Regions from separate parts of the Homo sapiens genome. Here regions 2, 3, 4 and 5 are each reported to be linked to region 1. The links are microRNA targets in miRTarBase. Many come from high-throughput screens and were not tested one by one. Region 1 holds a microRNA gene; each other region holds the end of a gene's coding sequence.

Region 1 (4,148 bases):
TGATTGAGATTAGGACATTAACAAAAAGCTACCTGTTACAGTCTTTATAATATGGCTCTGTCCTGGCATAGTCTGAAATCAATTGTCTTGACTCTAGATTCTGAGAATTCCTCAAACATGTTTTTAAGGTGTGTCTTGTTTAAAATTTTATGTTTATTGTTTAGTTAATAATAAGTAATCATTCACTACACCCATTCCCTGTTTGGGTTACTGCAGTTTCTCTGCTTCTCTATAATTTACCTTCAGACTCAAAGTGTCATTCTAACATATATCACCATTTTTTTTGGCATTTTGTGTCATGGGACATATCAACTAGTGTCTAAAAAAGCCCCTAGAAGCCAGAAATAAAGATGTATGTGTCAATATTTTTCTTGTTTTTTAAAAAAGAAACCAGGAGTTGGCAATTTACATTTTTGTGTGTATGTGTGAGACAGAGCCTCACTCTATTAACTAGTCTGGAGTGCAGAGGCATGACCTTGGCTCAGTACAATCTCTGCCTCCAGAGTTCAAGCAATTATCCTGCCTTAGCCTCCCAGGTAGCTAGGATTACAGGTACCTATTACCACCCCTGGCTAATTTTCTGTATTTTAGTAGAGATGAGGTTTCACCATGTTGGTCAGGCTGATCACCTCTGGTTGTCCTCCATCTTGTTCACCCAAATTGCTGGAATTACAGGCATGAGCCATCATGCCTGGTTGGCAATTAACTTTTTTTTTTTAATTTTTATTTTTTGTGGTGGGGTCTCACTCTGTACCCAGGCCAGAGTACAGTGGTGCAATCTCAGCTTACTGCAACCTCCACCCCCTGGGTTCCAGCAATTCTCATGCCTCCGCCTCCCCAGTAGCTGAGATTACAGGTGCCCATGACTAAGCCTGGCTAATTTTTTGTATTTTTAGTAGAGATGGGGTTTCACCATCTTGGCCAGGCTGGTCTTGAACTCCTGACCTCAAGTGATTCACCCACATCTGCCTCCCAAAGTGTTGGGTTTACAGACACAAGCCACCACACCAGGCCAATAATTTACTTTTAAAGGCACAGAGTTATACTGGAGATATGGAAGAGCTGTGTTGGGTATAAGTAACAGGCTTTTCTTTATCTTCTATGTGGCTCTTTGCATTGTGCTCACCTGGGACCCTTCACACACTTAATTCACTTATACATTTTTTACAAATTGTATTTTGGTCAGTATGTTTTTGTTACATTTATATGTCCAGGAAGAAATTACAGCTTGTGGTATTTTGCCATGTCATCTTCCTTAGGTAGTCTGTGAAATTTTATAGGTTAGATTTGTAAAATATATTTATCTGAGTCTAGCAGTTGAAGTGTTGTGTTTTTATTGTCTCTTTCAGTTATTTGTTCTCATTTTGCCCAAGAACTTTGGCTAGAGCAGAACATAAAAGATTCTTTTCAAAAAGTGATACTGAGAAGATATAAAAAATGTGGACATGGCAATTTACAGTTAAAAAAAGGATGTGAAAGTGTGGATGAGTGTAAGGTGCAAAAAAGAGGTTATAATGGGCTTAACCAATGCTTGACAACTACCCATTGCAAAATATTTCAATGTGATAAATATGTGAAAGTCTTTCATCAATTTTCAAATTCAAACAGACAGAAGACGTACTGTAAAAAAACCTTTGAAACATATAGAATGTGGCAAATCTTTTAACCAGTCCTCAACCCTTACTACACATAAGAAAATTCATACTGGAGAGAAACCCTACAAATGTGAAGAATGTGGCAAAGACTTTAACTGGTACTCAACCTTTACTACAGATAAGATAACTCATACTGGAGAGAAACCCTAAAAATGTGAAGAATGTGGCAAAGCCTTTAAGTACTCCTGTACCCTTACTACACATAAGATAATTCATACTGGAGAGAAATCCCACAAATGTGAGGAGTGTGGCAAAGCCTTTAACTGGTCCTCACAGCTTGCTATTCATAAGATAACTCATACTGGAGAGCAACCCTACAAACGTAAAGAATGCAGCAAAGCTTTTAACCATCCCACAACCCCTTCTTCACATAAGAAAACTCATACTGGAGAGAAACCATGCAAGTGTGATAAATGTGGCAAAGCCTTTATTTTTTCCTCAACCCTTAGTAAACATGAGAAGATTCATACTGGAGAGAAACCCTACAAATGTGAAGAATGTGGCAAAGCCTTCAGATGGTCCTCACACCTAACTACACATAAGATAACTCATACTGGAGAGAAACCCTACAAATGTGAAGAATGTGGCAATGGCTTTAAGTATTCCTCTACGCTTACTGAACATAAGATAATCCATACTGGAGAGAAATCCTACAAATGTGAAGAGTGTGGCAAAGCCTTTAACTGGCCCTCACAGCTTGCTATTCATAAGATAACTCATACTGGAGAGCAACCCTACAAATGTAAAGAATGTGGCAAAGCTTTTAAACATCCTGCAACCCTTTCTTCACATAACAAAACTCATACTGGAGAGAAACCATACAAGTGTGATAAATGTGGCAAAGCCTTTATTTCATCCTCAACCCTTAGTAAACATGAGAAGATTCATACTGGAGAGAAACCCTACAAATGTGAAGAATATGGCAAAGCTTTCACCCATTCCTCACACCTTACTAGGCATAAGAAAATTCATGCTGGAGAGAAACCATACAAGTGTGATAAATGTGGCACAGCCTTTATTTTATCCTCAACCCTTAGTGAACATGAGAAGATTCATACTGGAGAGAAACTCTACAAATGTGAAGAATGTGGCAAAGCCTTCAACCATTTTTCACACCTTACTATACATAAGACAATTCATACTGGAGAGAAATGCTATAAATGGTATAAAAACCTTTACATGGTCCTCAAGCCCCCATAAACATAGGAGAACTCATACTGGAGAGAAACCTTACAAATGTGAAGAATGTGGCAAAGCCTTTACTGCATCCTCAACTCTAAGTGAATATAAGACAATTCATACTGGAGAGAAACCTTGCAAATGTGAAGAATGTGGCAAAGCTTTTAACTGGTCCTCAGACTTCAATAAACATAAGAGAATTCATAGTGGACAGAAACCAATACTGTAACAAAGCTTTATTTATTTATTTATCTATTTATTTATTTATTTATTTATTTATTTTTGAGATGGAGTTTCACTCTTGTTGTCCAGGCTGGAGTGCAATGGCGCAATCTTGGCTCACCTTCACCTCCATCTCCCAGGTTCAAGCGATTCTCCTGCCACAGCCTTCCTGTGTAGCTAAGATTACAGGCATGCACCACCACACCTGGCTAATTTTGTATTTTTAGTACAGATGGGGTTTCTCCATGTTGGTTAGGCTGGTCTTCAGCTGCCAACCTCAAGTGATCCACCCATCTCAGCCTCCCAAATTGCCAGGATTACAGGCACAAGCCACTGCACCAGGCTGACAAACCTCTTTGTAAGGAAGTTCTCAACACTTATTACACATAATTCATACTGGACAGAAACCCTACAGGTGTGAAGAATTTGGCAAAGCCTATAACAAGTTCTCAATTTTTTTTTTCTTTTTTTGAGATGCAGTTTCACTATTGTGACCCAGGCTGGAGTGCAATGGCATGATCTTGGCTCACTGCAACCTTCGTCTCCTGGGTAGCTGGGATTACAGGTACCCACAATGACACCCAGCTAATTTTTGTAGTTTTAGTAGAGATGGGGTTTTGCCATATTTGCCAGGCTCGTCTCAAACTCCTGACTTCAGTTGATCCACCCACTTTGGCCTCCTAAAGTGCTGGGATTACAGGCATGAGCCTCCATTCCTAGCCATAAGTTCTCAATTCTTAAGAGACATGGCAATAATTCATGCTGAAGAGGAACTCTACAAACCTGAAAGATGTGACAGTGCTGTTCCCAACACCTCCAACGTTTCTATACATAAAAAAATTATACTAGTGTGAAACTGTAGAAAAGTATAAAATGTGACAAAGCCTTTATTTGGTTGCCACACTTGATAAATATAAAAATAAAAAATTGTTTAAAATTATTTGTATATAGCTTTAAAAGGAGATTTTTGGAAGCATTGTAATTACATTAAAAGTATACTTGTTTTCTTGAAAAAAAGTTTTTCAAAAGTGAATAATGATGTCATACAGCTTTCAAATTACTTTATGCTGTTATTTTATTCCTATTCACATG
Region 2 (4,148 bases), not on the chromosome of region 1:
GTAGAGGATGTGGAGAAATAGGAACGCTTTTACACTCTTGGTGGGAGTATAAATTAGTTCAACCATTGTGGAAGACAGTGTGGCAATTCCTCAAGGATCTAGAACTAGAAATACCATTTGACCCAGCAATCTCATTACTGGGTGAATACCCAAAGGATTATAAATCATGCTACTATAAAGACATGTGCACTCCTATGTTTATTGAGGCACTATTCACAATAGCAAAGACTTGGAACTAACCCAAATGTCCATCAATAATAGACTAGATAAAGAAAATGTGGCACATATACACCAAAGAATACTATGCAGCCATAAAAAAGGATGAGTTCTTGTCTTTTGCAGGGACATGCATGAAGCTAGAAATTGTGATTATCAGCAAAATATCACAAGGACAGAAAACCAAACTCCGCATGTTCTCACTCTTAAGTGGGAGTTGACCAATGAGAACACATGGACACAGGGAGGGGAACATCACACACCGGGGCCTGTTGTGGGGTAGGAGGCTGGGGGAGGGATAGCGTTAGGAGAAATACCTAATGTAAATGATGAGTTGATGGGTGCAGCAAACCAACATGGCACACGTACACCTATATAACAAACCTGCACGTTGTGCACATATACCCTAGAACTTAAAGTATTTTTTTTTAAAAAAGATTATTTCTTTGAATAAGTGTTCTACTCTTTGCTCCTTCTCAAGTCCCTCTTTAAGGCCAATGAATCTTTGATTTTCTCTTTTCAGGCCCTCTTCTAGATCTCTTAAGCATTCTGTGTTCCTGCTCATTCTTCTTTTCTTTTTTCTCCTCTGACTGTATTTTCAAATAGCTTGTTTGCATGCTCACTAATTCTTTCTTCTGCTTGATCAATTCTACTGAGACCCACTAATGTATTTTCCAGCTCCAGCATTTGATTTTTTTCTCTTACTTCAGTAATCTTGTTAAATTTCTGATATATTTCTGAATTGTTTCTCTGTGTTTTCTTGAAGTTCATTGAGCTTTCTCAAAATAGCTATTCTGAATTCCCTGAGAGGTTACACGTCTCCATCTCTCCAGGGTTGGTCACTGAGTGCCTTACTTGGTCCATTTGTTGAGGTCATATTGGCTTCAATGTTATTGATACTGTTGATGTTTGTCAGTATCTGGGCATTGAAGGATAAGGTATTTATTCCAGCCTTTGCAGTCAGGTCTTGTTTGTACCTGTCCTTCAGAGGACTTTCCAGGAATTCAAAGTGGGCTGACGAGTTCCCTAAGCCAGTGATCACTGCAGCCATTTTTGTACTACAGGGCACCCTAGGCCCAGGTACACTGCAATTCTTACCGATTCCTAGGTCCCCAGCCCTGTGGACTTGGGGGAAGATCAGGGATTGTTCTCCGCATTCCCAGGTAAAGCCCCTAGCTTACTTCCCTTTCTTTCCCCCAAGCAAGAGGAACCTCTCTTCAGGCTGCACTGCCTGGAGTGTGGGGAGGGGTGATACAGGCATTCCCATAGCTGCTGCAGCTGCTGCCATCATACTGGCTCACACCACAAGTCCAGGGTGTTCCAGACCTATGCAGCATCAGGGCTTGCCCAAGGACTGCGGCCACTACAGCCTGCCTGCCACTGAAATTTATTTGAAGCCCAAGAAATTTCCAGTGATAAAGCCGGCCAGAACTTTGCTGGGTTCTTCCTGCTGGGGCAGCTGGTTCCCTTGTGGCCCAGGGTGGGTCTAAATGCTTCTTCTGTGGGCACCAGCCTGGAATCAAGTGCTGTGGGGTTCTGCCCAGTGCCGTGTATCACTATGGCAAGACTGGTACTAAGTTTCAATATAAAGTCTCACACTTTCCCCCTTGTCCCCAAGCCATTAGATTCTCTCTCAGAGAATTTCCTGTGGTTGGGGGAGAGGTGTCATAGGCAATGCAAGACTGTCCTTCCTCCCTTCTTCAATGCATCTTTTCTTGTTAGCAAGTTAAAAGCGGGTGCTATGATCTCTCACCTGGCTAGCCCTTGTGAAAGTGTTTTCTTACATAGATAGTTGTTTAATTTGATGTTCCTTCAGAGAGACCATTGCTGGAGAATTCTATTCTACCATCTTACTCCACCTTCTACCTGTTTTTATTTTTTAAATGTTTCTAGTACATAATTGTGAAGTGATAGCTTATTTTAATCTTGGGAATCAAAAGCATGTAGCTAAGAACTTTTCCCAAGGAATATTTTAAAATTTTTATATCAATGTTTATGGAATGACATACTTTTTGATTCAAGGTTCTTAAATGTAGTTTTAGTTTTGATTCAATGTTATAGAACACTGTTTTTTAAACTGTGATCTGAAGCCCACATGTAATGGAATCACCTGGGGTGCTTATATTAAAAAAATGCAGATTCTAGGGCTCACACCAACTAAATCTCCTGGGATTGGAGACCAGGAGGTAGCTCCTATAATCTCCACAGCTGCTTCTCAGGCACACCAAGTTTAAGAACCATTCTTTCATATTTTCAGACTGGGGATTCTTACAAAATGACAAAGAAGGAAAACCTTAATCTTTTAAAGTTAGAGTTCAAGCATTAGACTATATGCTTCTTAAACACAGTTTGTCTTTCCCATTTTCTCTTTCCAGTTCTTTATACTGTCAAGGGATTGGTGCAGAAATGGGAAACAAAGCAGTGAAAGAAAAACTATTTATTTCTTTATACACATTTTGCTTTAACAATCACCAAAAAGACTTTCATTTTCTGTCACCCACCCTGTCCACCAGTTATGTTGGCCTTCAATATATGGCGTTAGCAACATATATAAATCTATATCATATATTTATACACACAAACACATTCTACCAGCACTGTGAAGACACAGACTAGGCTTTACTAGGCTTGGGGCCTCTCCCATGCCACTTAAAAATGAGCACAGGTTTGCTCTATGCAAGAATTTCAACAGAGTTGGTCTGGCCATCAGTCTGCAATTTCCCCGAGATAAGATAGGGTGACAAAATGGGACAGCAACTTTGAAGTGAGGTCAGTCCAATTTGGATATCATAGAAGAAAAGAAATAGGATGTGCTAGGTTAAGCCTGAGATGGTATCTGGGAAGTCACCACATTCATGATGTGAACTCAAAGAACACAGGTGCTACAGTGCAGACCAAGGCCCAGCCTGACTCGACCCAACAGGGTCAGGTGTGGATCTGTGAGTAGTGCTCACTGAGCCCCCGCCAGCAGTGTCCGGCAGGGCACCGCTGCTCAGTAGTGTGCTTTTAGAACCTGCCAGAGGAGCTCCAGCATTGGGACCACGTGCCCCTTTCATCGGAATCAGGGTCCTATATTCACTGAGTTTTCCATCTCAGGACAGCTGATGAGGCAAGAAATGTGCTCTTGCTAGTTCCCAAGCTGCTGGGGCTGTTGAGAGGCAGGATCACAAAACCTTCTGTGCAAACTACGCATCTTTTTCTTAGTGCTGGGCCAAGTGGACCTTGGCTAATCGTATTCCATAGCCGTCAGAAAGGCTTTCTGCCTTTCTCCCAGCTCCACCAGGATACATCTCTGACTCCCTCTTCTGGACCCTCCCGTGGACTTGGAGGAATGAGGCCCAGATGCTCCTCAGCAGATAGGTAGCTGCACAAAAGGGGGACAGGCCCACCTTTCCTGCTGTTTTAAGGACTTCTGGTGGCTGCGCTTCTTGCATGGTTCCTGGAAGGCAAGGGTCACAAGGCTGGAGTACATGGCAGAGCCCTTAGGGATTTCACCTGCAGACAAACATAAAACAAACCAAATCAGTGTATATTGCCAGGCCCTACTGATGGCTACCTGAAGCTGGAGTGAGAGCTACGTGGTGACCAAAGCCAGGAGCACGGTGAGAGCCAGTTAAGAGGATGAGCTAAGAGCATGCGCTGCAGTCTGGAGGAGCAACAGGTGCCCGAGGTTAGGGGGAGCCTCCCCACCTCCCTGTGTGCTGAGATCCCTGCTCCAATTCACTGCACACTGGGTGGCTGGATCCTACCACTCCCCCTTCAGGGGCCAGGTGACTCTCCAAATCACTTTGTCTCAGCAGAAAGAGGCCTTTGCCATGTCCACCCAAGAAAGAAGTGCTTAGCATGAAACATGCACATATAGAAACAGCCTGTTTGTAGGAAGAAGAGGACATTTTGCTGGGAAGCCCTCTGTTAAGTTTATGTCCAGTTGC
Region 3 (4,148 bases), not on the chromosome of region 1:
TGATAAATGTAAAACTATTTTCTGGGCCCTTTTCTTGCGTTTTTAAAATTCATTATTCTGGCCAGGTGCAGGGGCTCATGCCTGTAATCCCAGCACTTTGGGAGGCTGAGGTGGGCGGATCATCTGAGGTCGGGAGTTTGAGACCATTCTGACCAACATGGAGAAACCCCATCTCTACTGAAAATACAAAATTAGCCGGGTGTGGTGGCACATGCCTGTAATCCCAGCTACTCGGGAGGCTGAGGCAGGAGAATTGTTTGAACCCGGGAGGCGGAGGTTGCAGTGAGCCAAGATCGCGCCATCGTGTTCCAGCGGGGGCAACAAGAGCGAAACTCCGTCTCAAAAAAAAAAAAAATCATTATCCTTAAGAGGTGATTAGGAAAGATTGAATTCTTTATATGGAAATAAACTTGAGCTTTAAATTCTTAATTTTTTTTCCAAAATGGAAATAGCTGTGTTGTTTTAAGAAACTTTATGCACACAGAACATTTTAATTTTTTAAAAACAATTGCGGTGGTTTTTACTGTATCTTTTTATATTTTATTTCAGGTGTCGCACCTCCTTCTTTTGTAGCCATTAAGGCAGGAACAACACTGTATCAACTTACAACAGCAGGAGAAGCTGTTTCCTGGAACTCAATATTTATTCTGATGATCTTGGCTGTTCTTTCTATTCTGCCAGCCATCTTCCAAAAAAAACTAAAGCAGAAATTTGAGTAAAAATAATCATCTGATTTTTAGTTTTGCTGTCATCACCATCTCAGGATTAACAGGTGCATCCATTTATGTTTTAAAATCACCTCTTCAGTAATTAAACAAGGAATTTGTAAAATAAAATTTCCTATCAGATAGTTAAAGTAATACATTTAAGTGACAAGGGGAGAAGAAAGTAAAAATGGAAATTGGTATACTGTGAAAAGTGCTATCAATAGTTAAGGTAGACATCTTAGACATCTTATAAATTATTATACCAAGGGTAGCTGTAGATAATAGTAGTGTGGTAGGAAATTGTTGATCCAGCTAATTCATTCAATTTAATTGAATATTTTTTATCTTTAATAACTAAAATAGATATTTTTAAATTCTAGATTTTTTAAAGTAGTGTTGCAGGTTTTGTTAATGTTAGGCTTTTTTCAGAGCATAAACTGGAAAACTTAAAAAGAGATTTACATTTTCTTCCTCTTTTTTTTTTTTTTTTTTTTTCTGTTTTGAGACGGAGTCTAGCTCTGCCGCCCAGGCTGGAGTGCAGTGGCGCGATCTCCACTCACTGCAAGCTCCACCTCCTGGGTTCACGCCATTCTCCTGTCTCAGCCTCCTGAGTAGCTGGGACTACAGGCGCCCGCCACCATGCCCAGCTAATTTTTTTGTATTTTTAGTAGAGACGGGGTTTCACCGTGTTAGCCAGGATGGTCTCGATCTCCTGACCTCGTGATCTGCCCGCCTTGGCCTCCCAAAGTGCTGGGATTACAGGCGTGAGCCACCGCGCCTGGCCCATTTTCTTCCTCTTTTGAGGTAATGGATTTGTTTGGAGATGGCATGTTAGTAGACGACTGAATATGGAAAGGATATCAAGTTATCTATTTTGTTAATTTTATTTTTGTTTTTTATCATCTAGATTTTTATCATGGATTAGTCTGAAATTTAAAGTTCTGGCCAGTCGGTTTTCTTTCATCTTGTAGTTTTTACAGTATTTCCACTGTGCATATGCAAAATGGGTATTACATAACTGTATCATATTTGGTATTGATAATTTTTTTTTTTTTTGAGACGGAGTCTTGCTGTTGCCCAGGCTGGAGTGGAGTGCGTGGTGTGATCTCGGCTCACTGCAAACTCCGCCTCCTGGGTTCAAGCGATTCTCCTGGCCCAGCCTCCTGAGTAGCTGGGATTACAGGTGTGTGCCACCGTGCCCAGCTAATTTTTGTGTTTTTAGTAGAGACGGGGTTTCACCATGTTGGCCGGGCTGGTCTTGAACTCCTGACCTCAGGCTATATGCCCACTTCCACCTCCCAAAGTGCTGGGATTACAGGCATGAGCCACTGTGCCCAGCCTGGTATTGATAATTTATATTCAGATAATTTGTTATGGCTCTTTAATATCCCACAAGGGGCTCTAAAAAGCAAACATTCAAGAGTATGTAGTTTTTAGACATTAAGTTAATTATTTTAAACAGTGACAGCAAAACACAAGTGATTAAATATAGTTTATTTGTTCCAATGACTAAATTTTACCTCATTTATTAATCTGGTCATTAAGGAATATATTTAATAATATTATGTAATTATTCTTTTTATGCATGATACACCTAGAAAAATGCCTTTTGTTTCTATTGATGGCTTTGTTGTTTGGAGCTACTTTTGATTACTTATTGCAGTTTCCCAATTTAGTCTTTACTTTATCTAACTCACAAAGTAAAATTAACTGATCACATGGCAACTACTGTATTTAAATAGTTCTGGAAAAATGAAAGTGCTTTTTGCTGCTTGGTAAATGGGTAATGCCCTTGATTCCTTGACTGTAGGACATAGCTGATCTAAAGTACTCTGTCAGTTTTACCTTCACCCATGACTGTTATTAGTTGTCAAAGTTGAAAAGTACTTTAGCTGTGAGAAATCCTTGTATGTTTTTATTATAAGAGGTATAATCATCCTCAAAGCCTGTTTTTATTACATGATGTGGACTGATTATTTTTTCTATCACAGTGTTAACAGATGGATTTTATTGTAAATACAAAGAAAACATATTGATTATTGTAGTATTCTTATGTCACCTGGCCTTTTGCGTGAGATTATTTATTATTTCTAGCAAGGCTTTCTTCCTTTCTTATTGCCCAGAGACTGACTGATACATCTTTTGTTATTTTTACACATAAATTAAACATAGCCTTTTTGGACAAATTCACTAAATATTAATGTATAAAATGTAATTGAGTAAATTTTTATCAGAATTTTAAAAATAAAAGAGCTTAGACTCAGTAGAACTCAGTAGAAGCTTCACTATTTACTCCAGCGTGTGTAAATTGTACTTACTCTATTCTCAGAGTATATTTACTGTCCTTACCATTGATTCTTTCCCTTTGCTAATTTTTTTTTTTGTTAATGGTAGCTGCGACTTTAGGTGGGGTATATTTTCTTCTCCTAAGAGAATAGACAGTTTTTCCAGATTCATCATCATTGACTGTCAAGAAAGGACCCTTCAGCAAGGCTGTACCCTCAATGCAGTTGATGGCCTGTCTTCACGGATTTACAGACTTGGCCTGATGCCCATGTAAATTCAAGCTTTGGCTTGTGGTAACAACCACAAGAAGACAAGCATCTGTGGTGCGGAGGCAAGCAGGCTAACTAGGAGTTGACAAGCTAAGAAAGTGAAACTGTTCTTTCTTAGTTAACTGTCTTTCTCTGGAGCTCTGTTATTTTGAGTATAATATTTCCATGACACTTAGTAAATGCAAGCTAAAATGTAATAATAATAAATTGTATTGGAGAAACCTAAATGTCACATTTGGGATTTATTTCATGGAAGTACTTACATTAAAAAACTCTGGCCGAGCAAGGTGGCTCACGCCTGTAATCCCAGCACTTTGGAAGGTCGAAGCAGGTGGATCACCTGCAGTCAGGAGTTCAAGACCAGCCTGGCCATCACAGTGAAACCCCGTCTCTACTAAACATATGAAAAATTAGCCAGGTGTGGTGGCACACGCCTATAGTCCTAGCTACTTGGGAGGCTGAGGCAGAAGAATTGCTTGAACCCAGAAGGTGGAGGTTGCCATGAGATGAAATTGTGCCACTGCATTCCAGCCTGGGCAACAGAGCCAGACTCTGTCTCAAAAAACTAAAAACAAACTCTTCGTTGAATAAAAGTATATTCTTAAATTTCGATGTACATTTTCACCACTAAGAACAATGAAATGGCCGGGCACGGTAGCTCACACCTGTAATCCTAGCACTTCCAGAGGCCAAGGTGGGTGGATCACCTGAGGTCAGGAGTTCGAGACCAGCCTGGCCAACATGGAGAAACCCCGTCTCTACTAAAAATAAAAAATTAGTTGGGTGTGGTGGTGTGCACCTGTAATCCCAGCTACTTGGGAGGCTGAGGCAGGAGAGTCGCTTGAACGCGGGAGGCAGAGGTTGTAGTGAGCCAACATCACACCAG
Region 4 (4,000 bases), not on the chromosome of region 1:
AACTCCCACAGACAACGGCCCTGTAGGGAAGCGACACACGGGCACAGCCACCGTGTTCGTCACTGTCCTGGATGTGAATGACAACCGGCCCATCTTTCTGCAGAGCAGCTATGAGGCCAGCGTCCCTGAGGACATCCCTGAAGGCCACAGCATCTTGCAGGCAGGTGGCCCGTGGCCTCTGGGGCAGGTGGTGGGCTGGGGGAGGCGGAGCCACACACGGCCCTGAGGGCACATGCTCAGTGGCACCAGAGGCGGAAGCAGGTGGGGGCCCAGGGTGGGTCCGCTGCTCTGGAAGGTGCTGTGGGGAAAGGGGGACCCAGGCCCTCTCCCATCCCAGGGAGTGTGGGCCCCCAGGTTGCAGAGCTGAGGATAGGGCTCTGGCTCCCCACAAACAGGAGGAAGACTTGGCCTCCCCCTGCATATCTCCCGCCCCACCCAGAAGGGCCTTTCAGAGTAGCGGGGAGAAAGAGACGTCACAATTTCCCGGAAAGGAGTTGAGAAGAGAGCCAGGGCCCAGCAAGGCCCAGAACAGAGCTGCTTTCACAGAGCCCTTGGCCGAGGCTCCCCTCTTGGGAAGTAAACAGGCACAAGAAGAAAGGGCTCCTTTGCCCAGGGAGCAGGCGCAACAGCTCCAAGGCTCAGAGGGAGAGAAGGGAGGACCCTGAAAACAATTTGGGTGTGCACCCACACCTCTGCCCAGAGGCCTCAGTTGCTGGGTGGGGAGGGAGGCCCGGAGTGAATGAGTCTCTTTACCAACTATGGGGTTTCCGACTCGGAGGCTGAGCCAAACAGGGAATCTGGGCCTGCCCACTGGGGCAGGCTCCCGGGCTTGGGAGGGACAGAAGCGTGGGAGGCTGGCAATGCTCCCCTCCCTGCATCGGGACCAGGAGGCGGGCAGGAAAGGGCTGGGGAGCAGGGAGCTGACTCCCAGAAACACAGAGAGCCCAGAAAGCCCTGAGGATTTGCGAGAGTGTGGTGGCTAGCTCCAGAAGGAGGAAGTAGAGGGTTCTCTCGATCAGGGCCTCAGCTTGTGAGGACTTGGAGCATACCCCCCTGGCCTGGTGCCTGAAACCCAATTGAGAGCCCTCCCCCTCCTGGACTTTTCCTTCTTCAGGCCTCAGGGCAGCCTCAACCCCCACCCCAACCTCCAGGAAGACAGTGCCTAGTGGCCAGCAGGGCCTGCTGGTGAGGTGGATGGCTACAGGCTGAATCCAGCCTAGGATTTGCAGGGAGGCCCCAGGGGAAGCAAACCAGGAAGAGGTTACTGAGCAGGAAGGGAGGAAGGAACAAAACCCTTAGGGAGGAGGCCTGCCCCACTTTCTAAACCCAAAGACTTGGTTTCTATTTACACAATACTACTCTTACTGAAATCCTAGAGCCAGCGAGTTAATATAGGGCAGCCCTGAGTTCTCCCATTTCTCAGGGAGAAATGCAGCGTCTCAGGATGACTTCTCCAAGGTCCTCTTGGTAAGTTTCTTGTGAAGCCGGACTCACTTTTTGAGATCAGATTGACTTGGAAGGAAGGGACAGTGGGCTTCTCCAATAGAGCCTGCTTGGAGAGAAATCTTTCTAGAGTCATCTGAGGGAAGATGAGGCTCTGTGTTATGCCAGCTTCCACCAAGACTCCTGCCTCAGAGGGTGGGGACACACCCAGGCTGGGCCACGCTTCACTCTGTACACAGAAGCCTCATACTTCTGTGCACAGAACTGGGGAGTCAAAGTGAGGGGCTGGACAATGTCTGGCTCTCTGCAAGCTCCCAAGCTGGTAGGAAAGAGAAGACATAGACAAAAAGGACCCATGCTGCCAAGAGAATGTTCCTTTTCCTCCCCAAGAGAGGTAGGAGACAGTAGGGGCGGCTCCAGGCAGGAGGGCTTCACAGAGTGGGTGTGTGTGAAGCATAAGCCACAGTTAGTGGGTGACAGGTCTTTCAGTTTTCCTGGAGTTTTGGATCAAGATGAGGCTAGAAAGATTAATTGGAGCCAGCTCCCAGAGGGCACTGCACACTGCGCTGAGGAGCTTTGGCTATATCCATTTGGCATTAGGGAGCCAGTGAAGGTTTTGGAGCTGGGGAGTGGCAAGCCAGAGCTCACTCCTTGGGGAGACGTGGCTGGCTGCACTGTGGGTCACAGCAGGATGGGGGTGGGGCAGCTTTGTGGTGGGATCCTGGCCAGCTGACTGGGACAGGAGCTGGGCAGCCCAGGTCCTCCCTCTGCCCACCCTTCAAATTTGGGACCTGACCAAAGTGTTTAACCCTCGCGTTGTGAGGAGAGGTCAAGGGTTTGGGATTCTGAGAAGCCCATCCTGGGGTGGGACTGCTTTGACGGGTCATCAGCAAAGCACTCACCAAAACCACAGATAGCATCCCTAGTGTGGGCAGGACTTGGGACCCCACAGCTGTCCTGGAGAGGTCCAGACCATCCCACCCTCGGGGAGGCTGCCGCTTTCCCTGGGTGAGGTGTGGAGCTGCTGTGAGCTGTCCTCCTCCGAGTCCAGGTGGCATCACCTCCAGCTGCTGGAAATGCCCTGCCTCTTGCCACTCTGTCACAGCACCCGCCCTGGCCTCTGAAGGGAGCCTCCTCGATCATCTTCAATCCCTTCCTGATTGATCCCAACGTGGGTGCCCTGAAGAGGGGCCACCAAGACGGCTGCCAAGACCATGCTTGGAGAGCCCTGTTTGCTCCTCCTCCCAGCTGGCACCCAGGCATCTGTTCCACCAGGAGGGAGGCAGCTGCTCCCACAGGGCACCAGGCAGATGCTGGCAGCACCCGGGAAACCCAAGGAAGAGAGCCCCGAGGTTTTGCCCCAGCACTGGGCCAGCACAGATGCCAGGACAGTGTCTTGGCCCCGGTGTAGGCTGAGCATTTCACTTGACTAAAGGGAACCTTTGCCATTTGGCAACTTCTCCATGCTGGGCTTTGGCACCTGGAGGGCAAGGCTTCTGTGGCGAGCGAGGGTGCTGCTTCTAGGAGGTGGTTACGAGCCCCAGGTTGTACCCTGTGGAGCCTCAGGCCAAAGGCCCAGATGACCACGAGTGCACATCTCTTGACCAGAAGTCTTTCATCAAGCAGCAGCGAGGGGGTCTGCAGAGAGGAAGGTGCTCTTCTGAGGATCATCTTTGGGAAAGGGCGCTGGCCTGGGCATGCAAGGAGCTTCGGGGGGTGAGTGTGTGTCCCAGACTGCTTGGGCCACTGTCTTCCTGCAGCCTGCAGCACCGGTCTCTGAAGCAGGAGGATCTACAGGTAGACCTAGGGGGATGTGGGGGCATGTTTGTGGACACCCCATTACATCTTGGTAGATTCCATGTAGTCACAGTGGCTGCGGTTGTCCTCGGGGCCCGGCAGGGGCTGTCGAGGGACGGTGGGCCGGCCATGGCGGAAGCTGTGCAGGGAGAGGCGCAAGGAGCCCAGGCGCTTCCAGAGCCGGAGCTGGGGCTCACTGGGGCTCCCAGGGTGGTGGGGCATGCACTCGTGAGCCCTGCGGCGGCTCGGGTCCAGCGCGGCCGGCTTGCAGAGCGTCATGAACAGCAGACAGGTGGCCAGCAGGAGGAAGATGCAGGCCAGGGCGATGAGCATGGGGAGGGGGTCAGTTGCCTCTGCAAGGGTCCCGGGAGTGACGGGAGCTGAGAGAAAGGCGAGGGGGCTGATGGCTGGGGAGCTGGCGAGGCTGGGGCCCTCTGTGCTCATGGCTCCTGCAACAGCAACAAGACAGAAGCTCAAAGGCAGATCAGCTGGACCCAGGGCAGCGGGTATAGGGAAGACTTACCTAGGGAATGTGGATGGGGGCAAGGCACTGTTAAACTGGACAGCATCATGGCCACATCACAGGTTAAGACAGCAAGGTCCAGAGACATCACAAGTCTAAGTGTACACACAGCTGAGCAGTGATGGAGCTGGGCCCAAGCTCAGGCCCTCTTCCTGTTCCACCCTGTGCCCATCTGCCATGCAGACAAGAGGGCGGTGGCCTGTCCGCATTTTCAAATCAATCCTCATGAATCATCAC
Region 5 (4,148 bases), not on the chromosome of region 1:
ATGATGTACATTCATTGTTTAAAGTGTGTAGATTTTTCTGAGTTTAGATTTGAGGAAAAAGATACTCAGTGATACTTGGGGAAATAGGAGGGTTTTCATATCTGTCTTTTCACTTTCCCCAGGGGTATACTCTAGTTGAATATGAAACATACAAGGAAGCCCAGGCTGCTATGGAGGGACTCAATGGCCAGGATTTGATGGGACAGCCCATCAGCGTTGACTGGTGTTTTGTTCGGGGTCCACCAAAAGGCAAGAGGAGGTAAAATGAAGAGGGCAAATACTGTCTGGGTGAAGGGAATACGAACGAAACAGAATGAGGACTTAGTATTATGTCCCTCTAATGGACTCCTCTCCCTGCTTCTTTTTCCCTAGAGGTGGCCGAAGACGCAGCAGAAGTCCAGACCGGAGACGTCGCTGACAGGTCCTCTGTTGTCCAGGTGTTCTCTTCAAGATTCCATTTGACCATGCAGCCTTGGACAAATAGGACTGGGGTGGAACTTGCTGTGTTTATATTTAATCTCTTACCGTATATGCGTAGTATTTGAGTTGCGAATAAATGTTCCATTTTTGTTTTCTACATTTAATGTTACTTTCCTGTCCTAAAATTGAAAGTTCTAAAGCATAGCAAGGCTGTATGGATCATTGTGAAGATACTTCTAGGGACTGAACTCTATGTATTTCTTTTTTTTCTTTTTTTTGAGATAGAGTCTTGCTGTGTTACCCAGGGTGGATTGCAGCTGATCATAGCTCACTGCAGCTTCAAACTCTTGGGCTCAAGCCATCCTTCTGCCTCACTGTCCCTAGTAGTTGGGATTACAGGCACATGCCACCATGCCCAGCTAAATTTTTAATATTTTTGTAGAGATGGGGTCTTGCTGTGTTACCTGGGCTAGTTATGTGAGTTTCTATATTAGACATAGTCTCAAGTTTCAGGTAGGGTTTAAAGTAGAGACACTGGTCAGTATTTCTTTTTTGGGGGGAACTAGGAGAGCAGGAGTAGAAGTGAGATGTTAAGATCTTATGGCACTAAAGACTTACTATTCTGTTCCTACATACTCTGTTAGGATCAGATAGATGTTATAGAAATGCCTTTTGTTTCTCCTGCCCTTCTTGATGTCACAGTTTTTTGTACTTCCAGCTGTCTAAAGGCATGAATCTCCTCTTGGAGCATTCTCCCAGACCCTTCTTTAGAAGAGTCTATACTAAGTTCTTGGTGCCCTCTTCGGCAGCCAAGGGTGAAGGCCCCATAGAGGAGAGGATCCAAAGGAGCATTGAGGAGGCCCAAGAGGAAAAGGATGTGGCTCAGGCTGGGAGGGACTTCAGTTAGCATGGTGGGGGAGAACCAGTACCACATACCCAGTAGGTAATAAGGTGTCCAGCAGAGGATGAAGGTCAGCAAGATAAGCAGGGCCAGTCTCAGGGCCCGGAGACGAACACGGGGACAATTGTCAAAGGAGCGGGGGAGGGCAAATTCACCAGCAGGGGCTAGGAATTTAGAAAATATACTGTAATTCAGACACTCAGCTTCTGATCTGAGTATAGGGTGAATTGATGGAGGGGCATAGCTAGTGAGACAGAGCTCGCCTCCTACAAGGAGGAGAATGTTGCAAACCGTTTTCCCCTTCCCAACCTGGGACTATATGATTTCTTACCCCCAGGGATTATGATAGAAATATGAAGCCACCAAGTCTAGACTTGATGGTGTTCAAGAATAAATAATACTGATTGCCTCCCTAGTCCTTGTCCAGCTAACTCAGCTGTTTATAATTGAAGGGATTCAACAAAATTATCTCTAGCATCAGGTGCTAGACATGGTTAGAATCTCACCATGGTTTAGTGACTGGTAGATAGCTATTAGGTAGGTAGATAAATAAATGATGCTAGAGGCAACAGGTCTAGGGTTAAGGATTAAGGCCTGGGAATTGGAGTCTCACCATGGCTCCCCTTCCTTGTCTGGGGCCTGGACACACTGAGGACAATGCGGCTATAGCAGATGGCCATGGCAGTCAGTGGCAGCAGAAAGAGGCAGCAGAAGGTGAAGAGGTTATAGGTGGTCTCTTGCCATTGAGCCTTGAAGCTGCCTTTGGTGACACACTGAGTGAAAGGGACTGGGCCAGCTCAGTGGACCGTGTGGAACAGGAACAGCTGGAGTGGAGTTGAGGACTATTAGAACTGGTTCCCCTCACCACCCAACCTACCCACCTATGTCATACTGTCTCCTCCCAATTCATCCTTAATTCCAAGTGAAGCAGCACAGTGCTGAGAAACAGTTCATCCATGGTGCCATGTTAAAGAAGTTGGAAATATATCTTGAAAATCCTATCTTCCTTTTAGGCTTGAATATGATGCTGAACAGTAAGTTTGTTAAATCTTGGAACTTAAAACAATCCTGCTTTCTCAAGTACTATTCTAACATTGCGCTTTATAAGGGATGATATTTCTACCACCTCACTCATATTTTTAGCTGAAATGATTTTCCTGGTATGTCTGTTATTTTGTGGAAAAAGAAATATTGTGTAAAATGGGTGCTGCCAAAATTCCAGGCCATTTTGCAGGGACTCTGAAGTGACCTTTAGTAGTAATAGTCTTATGTGCAGTAACTATAATGGTAAAGAATGTTAAATAATAAAATTTAACATTTTCCAAATGCTATTGGGCTGCCCCTCCCCCTTTTTGTTAAATTGCTGGGTTTTCCAACTGAATCAGTAAAAACTATTTCTGTTTAGAGCTACAAGGTTAAAGTGCCTGCTTTCCAGTAATGGAGATTGAGTCACTATTAATTTGATAAAAGGTAAGCTCAGTAGGCATCAGATTCCTAGATACAAGGCATTTGGGAAAGTGATTTTAGCAGACATGAGGGACATTTAGGAAAGATGAATAGTTTCAGCCTAAGAGAATTTTGTGAACTGTTTGGAGTTACGATCAGGCTACTCTGAGCTAGTTGGGAAATGGTCTTTCCTCTTCCCATCTCTTGCATTCATATATTTCTAAGTTTTTTTTTTTGTTTTTGTTTTTGTGCTCTGCCTAAGAAGTGCTTGAGAATTGTGAGGAGTATAAAAATAGTCAAAGCTGGCTGGGCGCGGTGGCTCACGCCTGTAATCCCAGCACTTTGGGAGGCTGAGGCGGGCGGATCACGAGGTTAGGAGATGGAGACCATCCTGGCTAACACAGTGAAACCCTGTCTGTACTAAAGATACAAAAAACTAGCCGGGCGTGGTGGTAGGTGCCTGTAGTCCCAGCTACTTGGGAACTCGGGAGGCTGAGGCAGGAGAATGACCTGAACCCAGGAGGCGGAGCTTGCAGTGAGCAGAGATTGCGCCATTGCACTCCAGCCTGGGCGACAGAGTAAGACTGTCTCCAAAAAAAAAAAAAATAATAATCAAAGCTCTTGGATTTATAGTTTGGTCCACAGCCTTGTTTTGATCTTTCCTTTATCCTGTTTTATTGCCATTTACCACGTACTGTAGAAACATCCCTTTCAACTGCTGATAACTTGGAAACAAGCCTACAAAAATAAGTAATTTCTAACTACTCCTAATACTACCTATAACTACCCCTAAGCCCTTACCACTCTAACGTGACATTATTAAATTTTTTATTTTATTAACACTAATATTTTAACTACAATTACAGCATATGGGCAATACAGAATTTACCTAAAAGGATACTAATTTGGAACAAAAAAAATCACCTTTCGCACATGTATCATGTCACAACCAGTTTGCCATTGAAACAAATAGAGGTTGCAAATATTGTCAGATTGTCAGGCTGTAAGAAAGGATGAAATTCATTTCCCATTGCATCATCTTGTGGCCCATGGATTTCAAGTGCCTTAGCCAAAATCATATAGCTAGTTAGCAGTAGAGCCGAGACTCAGAAAAAAACAAAGTAAAACAGGCAGACTGAAACAAAAAGTCTTCTAATTCCCAGTCCACATGTAAAATTTGCTTCATATAAACAAACCTAATTGTAAATGGCACTGTAGCAACAGGCTTCTTTTTAACACTTGGATTGGTAAAGGTCTTGTTTGCAACATATTAGAAGTATTATTTTTCTCTTTCCCCCCCACCCCACCCCCAACAGAGTCTGGCTCTGCCGCCCACGCCGGAGTGCAGTGGTGCAGTCTTGGCTCACTGCAGCCTCCACTT

Evidence for each region. The annotated mature microRNA hsa-miR-1270 reads CUGGAGAUAUGGAAGAGCUGUGU and lies in region 1 at 1,046-1,068, shown strand. An mRNA with a match to its seed (bases 2 to 7 or 8) in the 3' UTR can be bound and repressed. Matches are read on the target gene's strand: a 7mer-m8 pairs with bases 2 to 8, a 7mer-A1 pairs with bases 2 to 7 and ends in A, and an 8mer does both.
Region 2: miRTarBase lists PDE4DIP as a target of hsa-miR-1270. The part of its 3' UTR that is shown has no 7-base or 8-base seed match.
Region 3: miRTarBase lists TMEM41B as a target of hsa-miR-1270. Seed matches in the 3' UTR shown: 7mer-m8 at 1,256-1,262.
Region 4: the mRNA of C10orf105 is a reported target of hsa-miR-1270. Seed matches in the 3' UTR shown: 7mer-A1 at 2,662-2,668 and 7mer-A1 at 1,554-1,560.
Region 5: the mRNA of RBM8A is a reported target of hsa-miR-1270. Seed matches in the 3' UTR shown: 7mer-A1 at 3,355-3,361.

Annotation. Positions count from the first base shown.
Region 1 is chr19:20,396,240-20,400,387 of GRCh38, reverse strand. It overlaps MIR1270 (microRNA 1270), which reads left to right and starts at 1,034; the gene lies at 1,034-1,116. It overlaps LOC124904660 (putative zinc finger protein 826), which reads left to right and starts at 2,375. Exons shown (of 1, transcript XM_047439794.1): 1 at 2,375-3,141. The coding sequence starts at 2,530. The coding sequence ends at 3,063. It also overlaps the pseudogene ZNF826P.
Region 2 is chr1:149,031,507-149,035,654 of GRCh38, reverse strand. PDE4DIP (phosphodiesterase 4D interacting protein) reads right to left here. Exons shown (of 47, transcript NM_001395426.1): 47 at 2,639-3,711. The coding sequence ends at 3,670. Among named protein-coding and RNA genes, the nearest start is that of NBPF9, 70 kb to the left of the region's middle. RefSeq lists an enhancer at 1,681-2,180.
Region 3 is chr11:9,279,995-9,284,142 of GRCh38, reverse strand. TMEM41B (transmembrane protein 41B) reads left to right here. Exons shown (of 7, transcript NM_015012.4): 7 at 550-3,489. The coding sequence ends at 719. Among named protein-coding and RNA genes, the nearest start is that of TRL-CAA5-1, 6.8 kb to the right of the region's middle.
Region 4 is chr10:71,712,654-71,716,653 of GRCh38, forward strand. C10orf105 (chromosome 10 open reading frame 105) reads right to left here. Exons shown (of 2, transcript NM_001164375.3): 2 at 1-3,689. The coding sequence starts at 3,684. The coding sequence ends at 3,283. CDH23 (cadherin related 23) reads left to right here. Exons shown (of 70, transcript NM_022124.6): 28 at 12-160. Among named protein-coding and RNA genes, the nearest start is that of C10orf105, 5.1 kb to the right of the region's middle.
Region 5 is chr1:145,922,152-145,926,299 of GRCh38, reverse strand. It overlaps RBM8A (RNA binding motif protein 8A), which reads left to right. Exons shown (of 6, transcript NM_005105.5): 5 at 123-259; 6 at 373-4,148. The coding sequence ends at 418. It also overlaps the pseudogene GNRHR2. Among named protein-coding and RNA genes, the nearest start is that of LIX1L-AS1, 2.6 kb to the left of the region's middle.